4 linked regions of the Homo sapiens genome follow. The protein of the gene in region 1 purifies or fractionates together with the protein of each later gene. This does not show direct contact. Each region holds a gene or a part of one and is shown in the gene's direction. Other genes may lie near its edges.

The links. Proteins that work in one complex are often made in the same cells at the same time.
Region 2: the proteins of CUL9 (region 1) and ISOC1 purify together in Homo sapiens (affinity purification with mass spectrometry, with the first as the bait; one large-scale study listed by BioGRID). This does not show direct contact.
Region 3: the proteins of CUL9 (region 1) and EIF5A2 purify together in Homo sapiens (affinity purification with mass spectrometry, with the first as the bait; one large-scale study listed by BioGRID). This does not show direct contact.
Region 4: the proteins of CUL9 (region 1) and IQGAP3 purify together in Homo sapiens (co-immunoprecipitation; one large-scale study listed by IntAct). This does not show direct contact.

The regions. Positions count from the first base shown.
Region 1 is NC_000006.12:43,198,395-43,203,714, forward strand, and holds part of CUL9 (cullin-9), read left to right. Parts: intron 1-214; coding exon 215-461; intron 462-871; coding exon 872-977; intron 978-1,534; coding exon 1,535-1,762; intron 1,763-2,041; coding exon 2,042-2,132; intron 2,133-2,268; coding exon 2,269-2,440; intron 2,441-4,321; coding exon 4,322-4,427; intron 4,428-4,714; coding exon 4,715-4,810; intron 4,811-5,022; coding exon 5,023-5,198; intron 5,199-5,320. UniProt on the Homo sapiens protein: Core component of a Cul9-RING ubiquitin-protein ligase complex composed of CUL9 and RBX1. The CUL9-RBX1 complex mediates ubiquitination and subsequent degradation of BIRC5 and is required to maintain microtubule dynamics and genome integrity.
Region 2 is NC_000005.10:129,101,249-129,104,748, forward strand, and holds part of ISOC1 (isochorismatase domain-containing protein 1), read left to right. Parts: intron 1-3,500.
Region 3 is NC_000003.12:170,895,138-170,898,637, reverse strand, and holds part of EIF5A2 (eukaryotic translation initiation factor 5A-2), read left to right. Parts: intron 1-3,500. UniProt on the Homo sapiens protein: Translation factor that promotes translation elongation and termination, particularly upon ribosome stalling at specific amino acid sequence contexts.
Region 4 is NC_000001.11:156,531,066-156,534,565, reverse strand, and holds part of IQGAP3 (ras GTPase-activating-like protein IQGAP3), read left to right. Parts: coding exon 1-65; intron 66-424; coding exon 425-557; intron 558-690; coding exon 691-793; intron 794-1,459; coding exon 1,460-1,586; intron 1,587-3,318; coding exon 3,319-3,406; intron 3,407-3,500.

The DNA.
Region 1 (5,320 bases):
CAGTGTTTGCTATACTAGGTTTTTTTTTCAAATCTGATTAGGTTTGTATTTGGGGTCAGGAAAGAAAACCCCTCATAGTTTGGTTAAAAACTATAGACATCCTCAATATAGAAGGAAAATTTTGGGGTGATTTTCTGGACCTTCCCAGTTCTCAGTTTGACAAACTGGTAAGACTCTTCATCCACATTTTTCCCTCTGGTGTGTCTGGCTGCAGCACTAGAGACCCCCATCATCCAGGGTCAGGATGGGTCCCCTGAGCTACTGATTCGATCCCTGGTTGGGGGCCCATCTGCAGAACTACTCCTGGACTTGGAGCGTGTGCTGTGCCGTGAGGGCAGCCCCGGAGGTGCCGTGAGGCCCCTCCTCAAGCGCCTCCAGCAGGAGACCCAGCCTTTCCTCCTGTTGCTGCGGACTCTGGATGCTCCGGGGCCCAACAAGACTCTGCTGCTGTCTGTGCTGAGGTGAGGGGCCTGTTGAGGCACCATGCATTGGGACGAGGGAAACTGGCAGACTTCAGGGACTTCACTTGTTTCTTTTCTGTTTTCTTTTTTTTTTTTTTGAGTTGGAGTTTCACTCTTGTTGCCCAGGCTGGAGTGCAATGGCACGATCTCAGCTCACTGCAACCTCTACCTCCCAGGTTCAAGTGGTTCTCCTGCCTCAGCCTCCCGAGTAGCTGGGATTGCAGGCATGTGCCACCATGCCCAGCTAATTTTGTATTTTTAGTAGAGATGGGGTTTCTCCATTTTGGTCAGGCTGGTCTCGAACTCCCGACCTCAGGTGATCCGCCCACTTCGGCCTCCCAAAGTGCTGGGATTACAGGCATGAGCCACTGTGCCTGGCCTGACTTCACTCGTTTCTACCCCCTCACCAGGGTCATAACCCGACTGCTGGATTTCCCTGAGGCAATGGTCCTCCCCTGGCACGAGGTCTTGGAGCCCTGCCTCAACTGCCTGAGTGGCCCTAGCAGTGACTCCGAGGTACCAGAACCCTGGCAAGGAGAAGAGAGGGAAGGGCAGCATCTGGGGCACCAACTCCTTGTGAGGCTCTGGAGGGCACAGCAGAGCCTTTCTGAATGGATCTTGGGGCACTGGGATGGGTGTAGGAGGAGGAAGGGTAATGTAATCTAAGAATCTCCAGAACTGGAATCTTTGAAGTATAAACCTTTTAGATGATTTTAGATTTGGAGTTTAGATTCTGGACTAAGGAGAAGCCCACATTCACCAATCCAGACAGCTGTCCTCCCTTCCGGGTTTGTGCATTGGAGAGCAAGGCTCAGGCACCAGGGTTAACATAGCTTGGCCTGGGCAGGAAGCAGCCTGGAAAGCTGTGCCCAAGCTCTGTTCTGCCAACTCACTCTGGAGTCCCAGCACTCCTCTATTTTACTCCACCCTGAATTTGGTACTCTTGTTTCCCTGGGCGTTGGCATGTCTCCACAATCTCAGCCACGACACTTCCTTTACTGAACCCTCTCCTCAATCCTTACATGTCCTACCTCTTGTTTCCTGTAAATTAATCTATGTGGCTCTGGGCTCAGATTGTTCAGGAGCTGACCTGCTTCCTACATCGCCTGGCCTCGATGCATAAGGACTATGCTGTGGTGCTCTGCTGCCTGGGAGCAAAAGAGATCCTCTCCAAAGTCCTGGACAAGCACTCAGCTCAGCTGCTGCTGGGCTGTGAGCTTCGGGACCTGGTGACAGAGTGTGAGAAGTACGCACAGCTCTATAGCAACCTCACCTCCAGCATCCTGGCCGGCTGCATTCAGGTGAGGAGCGGCTGTGGGTATGCAGCTGAGAGAATGCAAGTCAGAAGCAGGAGAAGGGGATTCACTGTGTTCCTCTTTGGTATCCCTGTTTGGCACAGGTTGTAGCAAATCTGGGGCACTTGTTTCCTAACCTTGACTCCACATGGTTCTGTCAAAATGTGGGGAGAGAGGAGTTGAGTATACCGTTGACCCTTGACTTTTTCTCTCTACCTGTTTCTGGGCATTTCTCTGTGTTCCTCCCTCTCCTCTTCCTCATTCTCCCTGATGTTCCGGCTGCAGATGGTGCTGGGCCAGATCGAAGACCACAGACGAACCCACCAACCCATCAATATCCCCTTCTTTGATGTGTTCCTCAGGCATCTCTGCCAGGGTTAGTGCCCTCATCTGCTTTCTCCTGGCTCCCATCCAGTGTCTGTTCTCCCCTTCCCTTCCTGCTCCTTAGACCTTTTCCTTTTTCCTCTCAACTAACCTAGCTGTGACTGCCACCCCTTCCCACTTGCCCCCAGGCTCCAGTGTGGAAGTGAAGGAGGACAAGTGCTGGGAGAAGGTGGAGGTGTCCTCCAACCCGCACCGAGCCAGCAAGCTGACGGACCACAACCCCAAGACCTACTGGGAGTCCAACGGCAGCACCGGCTCCCACTACATCACCCTGCACATGCACCGTGGTGTTCTTGTTAGGTGTGAACACACATATATGAATGTTCTGCTGTGCCCCAGGATACTTCCCCAAAGCACCCAGATACACACAACCCCAGCTATAACCCCAATGCCTGAGGGACACACTCAAACCTATTTTGTGCAGTGAACACATAGACACATTGACCTGCCTTTGCTGAGTATAGACATCCCCTCACTCCCAGAGTCTGGTGATCTGTACTCCAACAGGTACAGATGGCACTGCCCTGTGCTTAGTGTTGAGGGAGATAAACAGCTCACTTATCCATTTCTCCTTTGGGCATTTGCTTAATGCCAGGCATTTGTGTCAGGCACTGTGCAAGGGTCTCGAAATAGAAGGACAATAAGATATGGTACCTACATTCCAGCTGGGGAGCTACACTAGAAAATCAAGTAAGAGCACAGAGTAAGAAAAAGCATTGTGGTCCACATGTGGACCTGAGACTGACAGGCATGAGAGCAGACTTCCTTCTGGAAGGAGGGGGTGACTGAGCTGGGTTTTGACATTGAAATTAGGTAGATAAAGAGGGGGCAATATTCTAGGCATAAGGACAGCATATGTGCAAAATGGAAGTAAGAAAGTATATTTGGAGGGACTTTAAGTCATCATATTTGGTTACAATTGAAAGCTGTGTATATCTTTATTTTTATTTTTTTATATTTTTTGAGATGGAGTCTCGCTCTGCCGCCCAGGCTGGAGTACAGTGGTGTGATCTCAGCTCACTGCAACTTCTGCCTCCCGGGTTCACCCCATTCTCCTGTCTCAGCCTCCCGAGTAGCTGGGACTACAGGCGCCTGCCACCACGCCTGGCTAATTTTTTGTATTTTTAGTAGAGACGGGGTTTCACCGTGTTAGTCAGGATGGTCTCGATCTCCTGACCTCGTGATCCGCCCGCCTTGGCCTCCCAAAGTGCTGGGATTACAGGCGTGAACCACTGCGCCCGGCCGAAAGCTGTGTATGTCTAAGTGGCGGAAGATACAGGCCAGAAAAGTAGGCAAAGGCAGATCACAAAATGTTTTGTGAGCTAAGCAGTTTGAACTTTATTCCAAAAGTTGGGAGAGCCATTGGAAGATTTTAAGAAGGGAGGAGAGAAAACTAGATTTTTTATTGAGAAAGCTCACTCTGGCAACTATGGGAGTTTGCGCTGGAGGTAGAAGAAGGAGGTGGAAGGTGTATGCAGTGCTCTAGTAGAGAAAGGATCCATGTGTTCAGTTAGACAGCAGGAGTGGGAACTGACTGGGAAATCCTCAGAGATGGAGTCCACAAGACTTGCCTTTGGGTGAGGGAAGCCATGAGAAGGTGAAGGCCTCAGTGACAGTATTCTAGTTGAGTACTGAGTGCACGGAAGTTTTATTTCCCAGGAGAGAAACAGGAAGCGGGACAGGTTTATGTGGACAGATGATCATTTCATTTGGGCATGATGACTCTGAGGTGCCTGTGGGACATGACATGGAAATACCTGTTGGGGACACAGCATGAAAGCTCAGGAGAGTGGTCTGGGATAGAGATGTGTATTTGGAGTCCTCTGTGTATTAATTTTCAGTTGAAACTGTGGGTTTAAATTAAGTCACTTTGGGTGAATATAGAGGGAAGAGCAGAGGGTCTAGTGGGGACAGCTGCCTCAGGAGCCAGCAGAGGAACAGGAGCCTGAGAAAGAAGTGGTGGCTTGAAATAGTTTTGAACTGAAACCAGGGCTCTGGCCTTTTTATTTCCTTCTTTTGATTTTTATTTCGTAGAGGTGGGGTCTTGCAGTGTTGCCCAGGTTGATCTTAAACTAGCCTCAAGCGATCCTCCCACCTCAGCCTCCCAAAGTGTTGGGATTACAGATGTGAGCCACCACGTCCAGAGGCCCAGCTTTGACTGTTTCCTTTCTTCTTTCCCAGGCAGCTCACTTTGCTGGTGGCCAGTGAGGACTCAAGCTACATGCCAGCCAGGGTGGTGGTGTTTGGGGGTGACAGCACCAGCTGCATCGGCACTGAGCTCAACACGGTGGGGACCCTTGTGCCCACCTTCACCTTGCTCCACATCCTTCTTTTTGTCCCAGTGCCTGTGGGAAGGACCTAGTCCCTGGGGAATGGTGACATCCCTTCCCCTTGGGAAGGTGTTGCCTTGTAAGCAGTGAGAGTGGGATTAGGGATGCAGAGCCACGTCCATCCCTAGGCTCTGCGGGAGAAGTGAAGGGCACACACCATGACCGACTTGGTTACTGTCAACAATTTTTCCAACCTTGTTTCTGGAGGTGACAGTTCTCTCCCTCTTCTCCCCTGCCCTACCAGGTGAATGTGATGCCCTCTGCCAGCCGGGTGATCCTCTTGGAGAACCTGAACCGCTTCTGGCCCATCATCCAGATCCGCATAAAGCGCTGCCAGCAGGTGGTGTTAGGGTGTCAGCCAGGGCTGAGGAGGAGGAGGTGGCACACAAGTTTCTCCTTGATCTGCTTGGGAGATGGCCCAGGACCTGTTGAGTCCCAGAGATGTGGGGATGTCCTGAGCAGTTCTAGGGAGCTCAGGGCAGGAGGCTTGGCTTTGGTAGTACTTAGTGGCTCAAGCGGCTTGGGTGACAGATAAGTCTGTGCATGTTCCAGGGCGGCATTGACACCCGGGTTCGGGGTGTGGAGGTCCTGGGCCCTAAGCCCACATTCTGGCCACTGTTCCGGGAGCAGCTGTGTCGCCGAACATGTCTCTTCTACACAATTCGGGCACAAGCCTGGAGCCGGGACATAGCAGAGGACCACCGGCGCCTCCTCCAGCTCTGTCCCAGGTGGGTGGGGCCTGAGGAGGGAAGATGGGTAAGGGAACAGGACACTGTGAGAAGTAGGAGGGATGCTCCTGTGGGAGTCCGGAAGGGAAAGCTGCAGCCAGGACATGAGGGGGAAGGTGAAC
Region 2 (3,500 bases), on another chromosome or scaffold:
ACTTTGGGAGGCCAAGGCAGGCAGATCCCTTGAGCCCAGGAATTCAAGACCAGCCTGGGCAACATGGTGAAACCCCATCTCTATTAGCAGTACCAAAATTAGCCGGGTGCAGTGGTGCACGCCTGTAATCCCGGCTACTTGGGAGGCTGAGGCACAAGAATCGCTTGAACCAGAAGGTGGAGGTTGCAATGAGTCGAGATCACGCCACTGCACTCCAGCCTGGGCGACAGAGTGAGACTCTGTCTCAAAAAAATATGTTTTGTAGAGACAAGGTCTCACTGTGTTGCCTAGGCTGCTCTTGCAATCCTGGGCTTAAGTGATCCTCCCACCTTGGCCTCCGAAGTGCTGGGATTACCAGCATGAGCCACCATGCCCAGCTGGATTCCCTAACATTAACATTTGATATTCCTGCAGTACATTTGTCACAACCAAAGAACCAACATTGGTACGTTACTATTAACTAAACCACACTTTATTCATATTTCACTAGCTTTTCCCTAATGTCCTTTTTCTGTTCCAAAATCCAAACTAGGATACCAATTACATTTTGTTGTCTTGTCTCCTTTGGCTCCTCTAGTCTATAGCAGTTTCTCAACTTTGTTTTTAATGACCTTGACAGTTTTGAGGAGCACTGGTCAGATATTTTGGTAGAATGTCCCTCAATTTTGATTCATTTGATGTTTTTCTCATTGTTGGATCGGGGTTGTGAAATTTCAAGAGGAAGGTCACAAGGGTCATTCTCATTACATCATATCAAAGGTACATGTTATTAACATGATGTCATTAATGACATTAATCTTGATCACCTGGCTGAGACACAGTCGTCAGGTCTCTCCATTGTAAAGTTACTCTTCCCCCTCTATACTCTCCTCATAAGAAGCAGAGTACTAAGTGCAGCCACATTCAAGAGGATGTTGGGAGTTAAACACCTTACATAGATACTCTCCACATCATATTCAACAGCATGTGGAGAATGTCTATGAAAGGTAGGGTATTTTTTATTCAGTAAATTGTAACCTGTACTCTGCTTTAAAAACATGCCTTGCCACTGTATTCTCTATGGTTTCTTTGTTTACTGAGTTTGTGGATGGTAAGTTCCTATACTAGAGAGATTTCCCAGGGCAGTGAGGATTTTAGGGCTGTATTTTTGACCTCCTCAATGTGTGTCTAATATGACACATCTGATGCAGTCCCCTGTCCAGAACCCATAGCTAAAATGAAGGGCAGGAAACACCAGCTAGCAAGAACTGGAGACCACAACTCTGGATATTAGGATTCCTGGGTAGGTAAGGATTTATTCTTTTAAACACCTCAACTTAAAAATATCTTGACCATTTTATAATGTAGTCCTTCTGAAATATATAATTTAACAGTTTTCTTAATGAGTGTGCTGGAATGATGTTTTCCTAATTTATAAGTTAGAACAGCTTTTTACTCTTCCACTGGAGGTCTAGACTGTAGCATTATTTGAGTTTTGATCTGTTTTTATTGTATTTTGAATCTTTTCTCTGTCAGCCATCATTTCTTGCTGCTATCAGTTTGCCTGCCTCCAGCAGTTTCCTTTCTGATTTGCTGTTTATAGCCTTCTGTTAATTTAGAATCCAGACAATGAAACTTGTTAGGAATGTATACAGAGGTAGTCAATACAGTATAAAATAGGATCTGAGAGCTGGAATTCTAAGCAAGTGTAAGCTCTAAGCATGTTAGTGAATGGCCTCCACCACATTTACGCAACTGCCCAGGAATTTTATTTTTCAAATTTTTTTTTGTTTTTGCTGGTTCTCACCTGTTGTGAAACGGTGAGACTGGCTTACTTGCATTATGGTTATTTCAGTAGGCCTGCTGCAGGCAAACTGCTTTATGTAGTGTGCCCTAAACACATTGTGGATGCCTACGAGTCCATGATTCAAATTTATAAAAATGTAGATATTGAGCCTTTTGAGTCAATATTTGATGTTTACAGAGAATTTAGTGATTGGTTTTTAAAATAGTATCCTAAATGCACAAAAATTAGCCTTCCCAGCAATGCATTTATATTTGTATATAAGATCCTAGTCACTGCTTTTGAAAATGACCAAAGCAGAGGCATAATACTTGCATTTAAAATTAAGCAAAGAAACAGCCAAAGCTAGAACATATAATATGCTTGAGAATTTATTTTAATCATGCTTTATTGGAAAAGTAGGAAAACCCTATACATAGAGTAAGAATTACAGATGGCTCTCACATTCTAACATGAATTTGGTATTGGATTGTGCATAGCTAGTTAATACACATCTATAGAGTCAGTACCAGAGGGAGATTAAAGTGCCAGGGTACTTCAGACCAGGACATAGATAAAACAAAGTGCAAACCAATTAGAACAGTTATATCATTAAGGATTAAAGATTTCTTAATGGTTAATTTAATTCATGTAGTAATTGTTTCCAGAGAGTCAACCCCTGCAGAGATACTAAGGAGAGTCTAAGGCTGTGTTGGTGGTGAAGCCACACCATGTAATCCAGACACAGACTCCTTTAGAATATTATTAATAATAGTTATCTGTAGGTGGTTTTAGGGGAAACAAAGTAGGATAATTAGAGGGATGATTTAAGGGAGCGGCTAGTAAGGGTATTGATAATGGTTCATTCAGGACCAGAACACATCCTTTACAGTACTTCCTGCAATTTGCAAAAGAAAGAAAAGCACCTCAGACTTTTAAGAATCCAGTGAGAGTAAATTCTCATATTTAATGGTGATTTTTGCTTTTTGGTGGATCCATATTGGGCCCAAATTGTTATAGACCAACTACAGCAGCTAATATGAGGTTTGGTAATCTAATATCCACTTTTCATCTTAATTCATTGACTTTCCTTATCGTGATAACTATAGTTTAAGAATGGAGATGTCAAATATAGGTCTCTTCCTTGTGAAGTAAACGACAGTTCATTTAACAGCAGTGGTGTGCTTGGTATCATTTCGTTGCATTTTGTTTGAACTCTAAAAATTATTCTTGAGAATAGCATTTTCATATTTCTGTCTTGATGATAGCAGTAATTCTGGATTTGCTTCTGTCTGTTTTTTGTTTTTAGTTTTTATGTTCCTGCTACAGATATTTTAAGTTTTACTTTTTATACTTACAAGCAGCAACATCAGATTTTTTTTCTATTGTAACACTTTTTCTGATTATAAAGAAATTTCTTTAAATAACATTCAGGAAATGTGTTTAAATAACACTTGGAAAATATAGGAATGGTATAAAAAAAGAAATTACCAACACCCCAATTATATAACCACTTGTTAATATTGTAATGTACTACTACTTTTATTCATATTTTTACATTATTGAAATACTATTGAACTGCACTTTTTAAAAATTAACATTATGAGTATTTTTCCATGGATGGTATGAATTCTTTGAAGACATATACATATGTTTTTTAATTGGCTAAAAAATGTTTTGTCATGTGAATGTGTTAAAATGTGTTATATCATATCTGTATTGTTGGCTGGTTCATTTC
Region 3 (3,500 bases), on another chromosome or scaffold:
CTTATAAGAAAAGAGATTTAACTGATTCACAGTTCCACATGGCTGGGGAGGCCTCAGGAAACTTACAATCATGGAGGAAGGTGAAAGGGAAGCAAGGCATGTTTTATATGGCAGCAGGAGAGACAGCAAGCAGGGGGGATCTGTCAAACACTTTTAAGCCATCAGATCTCATGAGAACTCACTTACTATCATGAGAACAGCATGAGGGAAACTGCCCCCATGATCCAATCACCTCCTACCAGGTTCCTCCCTTGACATGTGGGGATTATAATTCAAGATGAGATTTGGGTGAGGACACAGAGCCAAATCATATTATTCTGTCCCTGGCCCCTTCCAAATCTCATGTTCTCACTTTCAAAACACAATCATGCCTTCTCAACAGTCCCTGAAAGTCTTAACTCATTCCAGCATTAACCCAAAAGTCCAAGTCCAAAGTCTCATCTGAAACAAGGGAAGTCCCTTCCGCCTATGAGCCTGTAAAATGAAAAGCAAGTCAGTTACTTCCTAGAAACAATGAGGATACAGGCATTGGGTAAATACTGTTATTTCAAATGGGAGAAATTGGCCAAAACAAAGGAGCTACAGGTCCCATACAAGTCCGAAACCTAGCAGGGTAGCCATTCAGTCTTAAAGCTCCAAAATAATCTCCTTTGCCTCCATGTCTTACATCCAGGGCACACTGATCCAAAAGGTAGGCTCCCAAGGTCTTGGGCAGCTCCACCCCTGTGGCTCTACAGGGTACAGCCTCTGCAGCTGCTTTCACTGGTTGGTATTGAGTGCCTGTGGCTTTTCCAGGCACATGGTACACCATTCTGGAATCTAGAAGATGGTGACCCCCCTTCTCACAGCTCCACTAGGCAGTGTCCCAGTGGGGACTCTGTGTGGGGGATCTAACCTGACATTTCCCTTCCACACTGCCCTAGCAGAGGTTCTCCATGAGGGCTCTGCCCCTGCAGCAGACTTCTGCTTGGACCTCCAGGCATTTCATACATCCTCTGAAATCTAGGCGGAGGCTCCCAAACCTCAACTCTTGCCTTCTGTGTACCTGCAGGCCCAACACCACATGGAAGCCACCAAGGATTAGGGCTTACACTCTCTGAAGCAACAGCCCAAGCTGTACCTTGACCCCTTTTAGCCACAGCTGGAGCTGGAGTGGCTGGGACACAGGGCACCAAGTCCCGAGGCTATACAGAGCAGCAGGGCTCTGGGCCTGGCCCATGAAACCATTTTTCCCTCCTAGGCCTCTGGACCTGTGTTGGGAGGGGATGCCATGAAGATATCTGGAATGCCCTGGAGACATTTTCCCCATTGTCTTGGCTATTAATATTCAGCTCCTTGTAACTTATGCAAATTTCTGCAGCTGGCTTGAATTTCTTCCCAGAAAATGGGTTTTTCTTTTCTACTACATGGTCAGGATGTACATTTTTCAAACTTCTATGCTATGCTTCCCTTTTAAACATGAGCTCCAGTTTCAGATCATCTCTTCATGAATGCATATGACTGTACACTTTCAAAAAAAGCCAGGTTACCTCTTGCACACTTTGCTGCTTAGAAATTTCTTATGCCAGGTAACCTAAATCATCTCTCTCAAGTTCATAGTTCCACAGATCTCTAGGGCAGGGCAAAATGCTGCCAGTCTCTTTGCTAAAGCACGGCAGGAGTGACCTTTGTTCCAGTTCCCAGTGAGTTCCTCATCTCCATCTGAAACCACCTCAGCCTGGACTTCACTGTCCATATCATTGTCAGCATTTTGTTCAAATCCATTCAACAAGTCTCTAGGAAGTTTCAAATTCTCCCTCATCTTTCTTTCTTCTGAGCCCTCTAAACTGTTGCAGTCTCTGCCTGTTACCCAGTTCCAAAGTTGTTTCCTTATTTTCAGGCATCTTTATAGCAGTGGCCCAAACTCCTGGTACCAATTTTCTGTATTAGTCCTTTTTCACACTGCTATAAAGAACTACCTGAGACTGGGTAATTTATAAAGAAAAGAAATTTAATTGAGTCACAGTTCCACATGGCTATGGAGGCCTCAGGAACCACGGCAGAAGGCGAAGGGGAAGCAAGGCACATCTTACATGGCAGCAGGAGATACAGCAAGTGAGGGGGGAACTGCTAAACACTTTGAAGAGAACTCACTCACTATCATGACAACAGCATTGCGGAGACTGACCCCATGATCCAATTGCGTCCCACCAGCTCCCTCCCTCGACATGTGGGGATTACAATTCAAGATGAGATTTGGGTGGGGACACAGAGCCAAACCATATCAAAGATTAAATAATTCATTCTCATTATTTTTGTTTTTCGTAGCTTAGTTTTATTTTTGAAAACTAATTGTATTTAATATAGCAATTTATCTTAATGTTTAATGTTTGTAAATGCATTGTTTTACTAGATGTTTTATATATTTGTACATCTGAAATGCTTTATATATTTCATTCCACAGTTTATGATTCTTAACTCTTAAAAAATAAAATAGCTCCATTACATACATCATTTTCAAAATATCAGTATTATTATTTGGCTTCTGTGTTTCAGTCACTAGTGGCACAGTACGAACATTTAACTCTTGAAATAGACAAGCTGTGCTTTAGGGAATTACTAAAAGAACAGAAATCAGAAAGATTTGTCTTGGAATGTTGTGGTTGTTTAAAAATTACACTTCAAGCTAGGTGCATTGGTGCACACCTATAGTCCCAGCTCCTTGGAAGGCTAAAGCAGAGGCTCACTTGACCCCAGGAGTTCGAGGCCAGCCTAGGCAATATAATGAGACGCCCATCTTTAAAAATATATATATTTTTTAAAAAGTTACACTTCTACCTCAACCTCCTTGCTCCCACTTCTCTACCAGCCACCTCACAAATATTTGAGGGTCTAAGAGGTTAGTTAAAAGTCTTTGTTGTAGCTCTGTAGGATTTCTTATTTTTGAGATTTCTAGACATATAAAAACTCAAATTTCCTGTGATAGATGGAGTTTCTGTGGAGAGCCATAGGCAGTTTTGGTAGATGGTGTATGTGGAGGAGAGCAATCCCAACGATATGCCTGGGTTATATCATAGTGGTTACAGGGGTTCAAGGACCATTGTCTTTGACTCCTTTTGTAGATATTAGTAGCTGGTATTCTGGATGGTAGCCTTTTATAAAACATGTTAGGATTCGAGGCATACTAATAGTGTACATGCTTTTATTAATAGAATAAATGAGTGGAGGTTGGTTGTTTACTCATTCCTGTAGTAAAAGAAGTTCAGTGGTATCAAAACCGTGCTTTTTTGCAGGTTGGGTTGACAACTGGGTTTTTTTTTTTCACTAATGTTATCCATACACTAGTGGATTTTGTTGTTGTTGTTGTTGTTGACTGAAGACCAAAAGTTTTCCACTTAATTTTGTTCATACTCAAATTAGAAAATGCATTGTTTGTAATAGCAAAAATAACTTTTATGCCCAGTAATGTGAAATTGGTTAAATCAGTAATAGTATGTCCATGCAGATATGTGGTAGTTAAC
Region 4 (3,500 bases), on another chromosome or scaffold:
TCTGGGCAGAGCCAGCACCTACGGGTCCTGAATGACTATCTGGAGGAAACACACCTCAAGTTCAGGTCTTGGGTCCCTTTCCTCTCTGTCCCCTTTCTTCCCTCTTCTCACCTTTGACATCCCACTTGTCCCCTCCAGAATCCATGAGGACAAGAGGCATAAATAGAAGGGATGAGCATAATGAGCGGGGTGGAGGATAGGTTGTTGGAAGGACTCCCCAGTGGAGAGAAAAGGAGACTATTAAGAGAGATTGTCTTGAGGGGTCACTGGGACAGAGGTAGGGCAGGACAGAGGGCAGAAGCTGAGACTGGAGAGTCCAAATTGGCCTGAGCAATCACTGGAGAAGGCTGGGGAAATGATGGGGACAGAAGATGTGTGGGGTGCTGGCCCTCCCCGCTCTCTCACATGCCCGCCCTCTGGACAGGAAGTTCATCCATAGAGCCTGCCAGGTGCCAGAGCCAGAGGAGCGTTTTGCAGTGGACGAGTACTCAGACATGGTGGCTGTGGCCAAACCCATGGTGTACATCACCGTGGGGGAGCTGGTCAACACGCACAGGGTGAGGGGCTGAGATCTGGAGGGTGTTGGCTGGGTGGGCAAGGGTTTGGTAGCCTGTGATGGGGTAGTGGGCTGGCCCCAGAGGGAAGACCTGGCTCAGACCCTGCATCTCCTTTTCTTTCTCCGTCCTGCAGCTGTTGCTGGAGCACCAGGACTGCATTGCCCCTGATCACCAAGACCCCCTGCATGAGCTCCTGGAGGATCTTGGGGAGCTGCCCACCATCCCTGACCTTATTGGTACGTGCCCTCCTTAGCAGCTGAGGCCAGCTAGGGGACCTGCATGGAGGGAGGGACAGGCAGGCAGGCAGGGCATGTGAGCGTGCCCATGCAGCCTAGGTCTTGTGCCAGGCGGCTAGTTCCATACTCTCCCTCTGGTCCTGACATGGGCACAGGGACACAGATTGATGTGGAGAAGGTAGACAGACAGTAGAGGGACCCACGATCATCATGGAAAACGGTCAATGAAATGATCTGAAAGAGGCACAGGGATCAGGGCCTCATTAGGTTTCTCTGAGAAGGAGGGGTTTCCGGGCCATGGAATAGGAGGAAGCCAACTTACTGGGAGGAAGGACAGAATGAAGATGGTGATTGGAGAGAACCAGGAGCTGCAGGCTCAGGGAGGCACAGCTCCTCTACCCTCAGGGCACCCAGGGCTGAGGGTGTGGGGGTGGCACAGCCCCAGTAACACAAGGGTATGCTCTGTGGGTAACAGCCCTTCCATCGGTGCTAAGGGTTGGGGACACAGGGTAGTTCTGCAGGCCAGTGTGGGAAAACTTCCTGGAAGAGGGGCATGTGGAGCAGCTGATTTAATGTGACCCCATCGGTGCATGTGTGTGTGTGTATGTGTGTGTGCGCATGTGTGTGTGTATGCCTGTCTCCCTCTCATTCCTCACCACACCTCAGGTGAGAGCATCGCTGCAGATGGGCACACGGACCTGAGCAAGCTAGAAGTGTCCCTGACGCTGACCAACAAGTTTGAAGGACTAGAGGCAGATGCTGATGACTCCAACACCCGTAGCCTGCTTCTGAGGTGGGTGATGCCAGCCTCTGCCCCTGCATACCTGAGCTCCCCAGCCCTGAGGCCAGTAAAATGGCCTTATTCTGAGGCGCCCATTCCACCTTCTTCCTGGGCTCCCTTATCCTTCAGGAAGTTCTCCCTGAAGCCTACCTTTATTCCCCTCGCTGCAGCCTTGGCTCTTTTCCATCTGGTATCCTCAGCTTTTTGCTCTGTGTTGTACTGAAAGTAAAGGAATGGTGAAGATATTGGCAACAGCAGGTGTTTGCATATCGTGCTGTTTACCAAATGCTTTTTTCTTTTTTTTCAAGTAGAGACAGAGTCTCGCCATGTTGCCCAAGCTGGCCTCAAACTCCTGGCCTCAAAGCCATCCACCTGGCTCAGCCTCCCAAAGTGCTAGGATTACAGGATTGACCCACTGCGCCTGGCCCAAATGCTTTTTTAATAAGTTATCGTTTATTCTTAGAAACAAGCTATGAGGTAGATGGTGGCTTCCCCTCTTCATAGTTGAGGAAAGACTCAGTAGTTATGTGATTTATCCAAAGTTCCACAGCCAGTGGGTTGTAGAGCTCATGTTCTAATTCCACTTTTTTTTTTTTTTTTTTTTTGAGATGGAGTCTCATTCTGTCATCCAGGCTGGAGTGCAGTGACACGAACTCAGTTCACTGCAACCTCCGCCTTCTGGGTTCAAGCGATTCTCCTGCCTCAGCCTCCTGAGTAGCTGGGACTACAGGTGCTCGCCATCATGTCCGGCCAATTTTTGTATTTTTAGTAGAGATGGGGTTTCACCATGTTGGCCAGCCTGATTTTGAACTCCTGACCTCAAGTGATCTGCCTGCCTTGGCCTCCCAAAGTGCTGGGATTACAGGCGTGAGCCACTGCGCCCAGCCTAATTCCGCATTCTTGTTGAGTGTGATGGTCAGGAGATGGGCATGGAGCTCTTCTTCCCCAGTTCTACAAAAGTGAGGGAGGACTCCCAGTAGGGGTGAGCTGGTCATCTGGGCAGAAGAGGAGCCAAAGTGCCAGCTCAAGCTCCTGCCAACAAGGCAACCCCTTGCACCCACTCATTCACTCAATAAACAAGTGAGCTGGCCAGGTGCGGTGGCTCATGTCTGTAATCTCAGCACTTTGGGAGGCCGAGGCAGGTGGATCACCTGAGGTCAGGAGTTCGAGACCAGCCTGGCCAACATGGTGAAACCCCATCTCTACTGAAAATACACAAATTAGCTGGGTGTGGTGGCAGGCACCTGTAATCCCAGCTACTTGAGAGGCTGAGGCAGGAGAATCACTTGAACCTGGGAGGCAGAGGTTGCAGTGAGCCGAGATCATGCCATTGCACTCCAGCCTGGGTGACAGGAGTGAAACTCTATCTCAAAAAAAAAAAAAAAAAACAAGTGAGCTGAGTATCATCTTTGTCCTGCCATCAAAGGGCTGAGAGCAGGATCGGGCTAGGGCTGAACACAGAGCACCACCAAGAGGGTGGTGGGTGTCAGATGCATTGAGAGCTAAGGAGAAGGGATGGCTGGGTGGGAAGGACATGTGTGCTCAGCTGAAGGACTCAAAGGCAGATAGTTTGTTGGGAAGGTATTCCAGGCAACGACATCCCCTATCCCTCGCTCTCTCTCCTTATATCCTAGCAGCCATGCTATAGAGCACGGTCCACTTACTCTCAGACCTCTGGCCAGTCCCATGTCCAGGCCCTTCCCCTGCCCCTTACCTCTCCTCTGTCACTGTCCTCCTTGTGCAGCACCAAGCAGCTGTTGGCCGATATCATACAGTTCCATCCTGGGGACACCCTCAAGGAGATCCTGTCCCTCTCGGCTTCCAGAGAGCAAGTGAGTAGCCGGGCTGGCCCACAGGTTCTGTCTCATTCATCCCCCACCTCATCCCACCTGCACCGCTGCTGTTTCCCTCCTCTGAACCTCACCC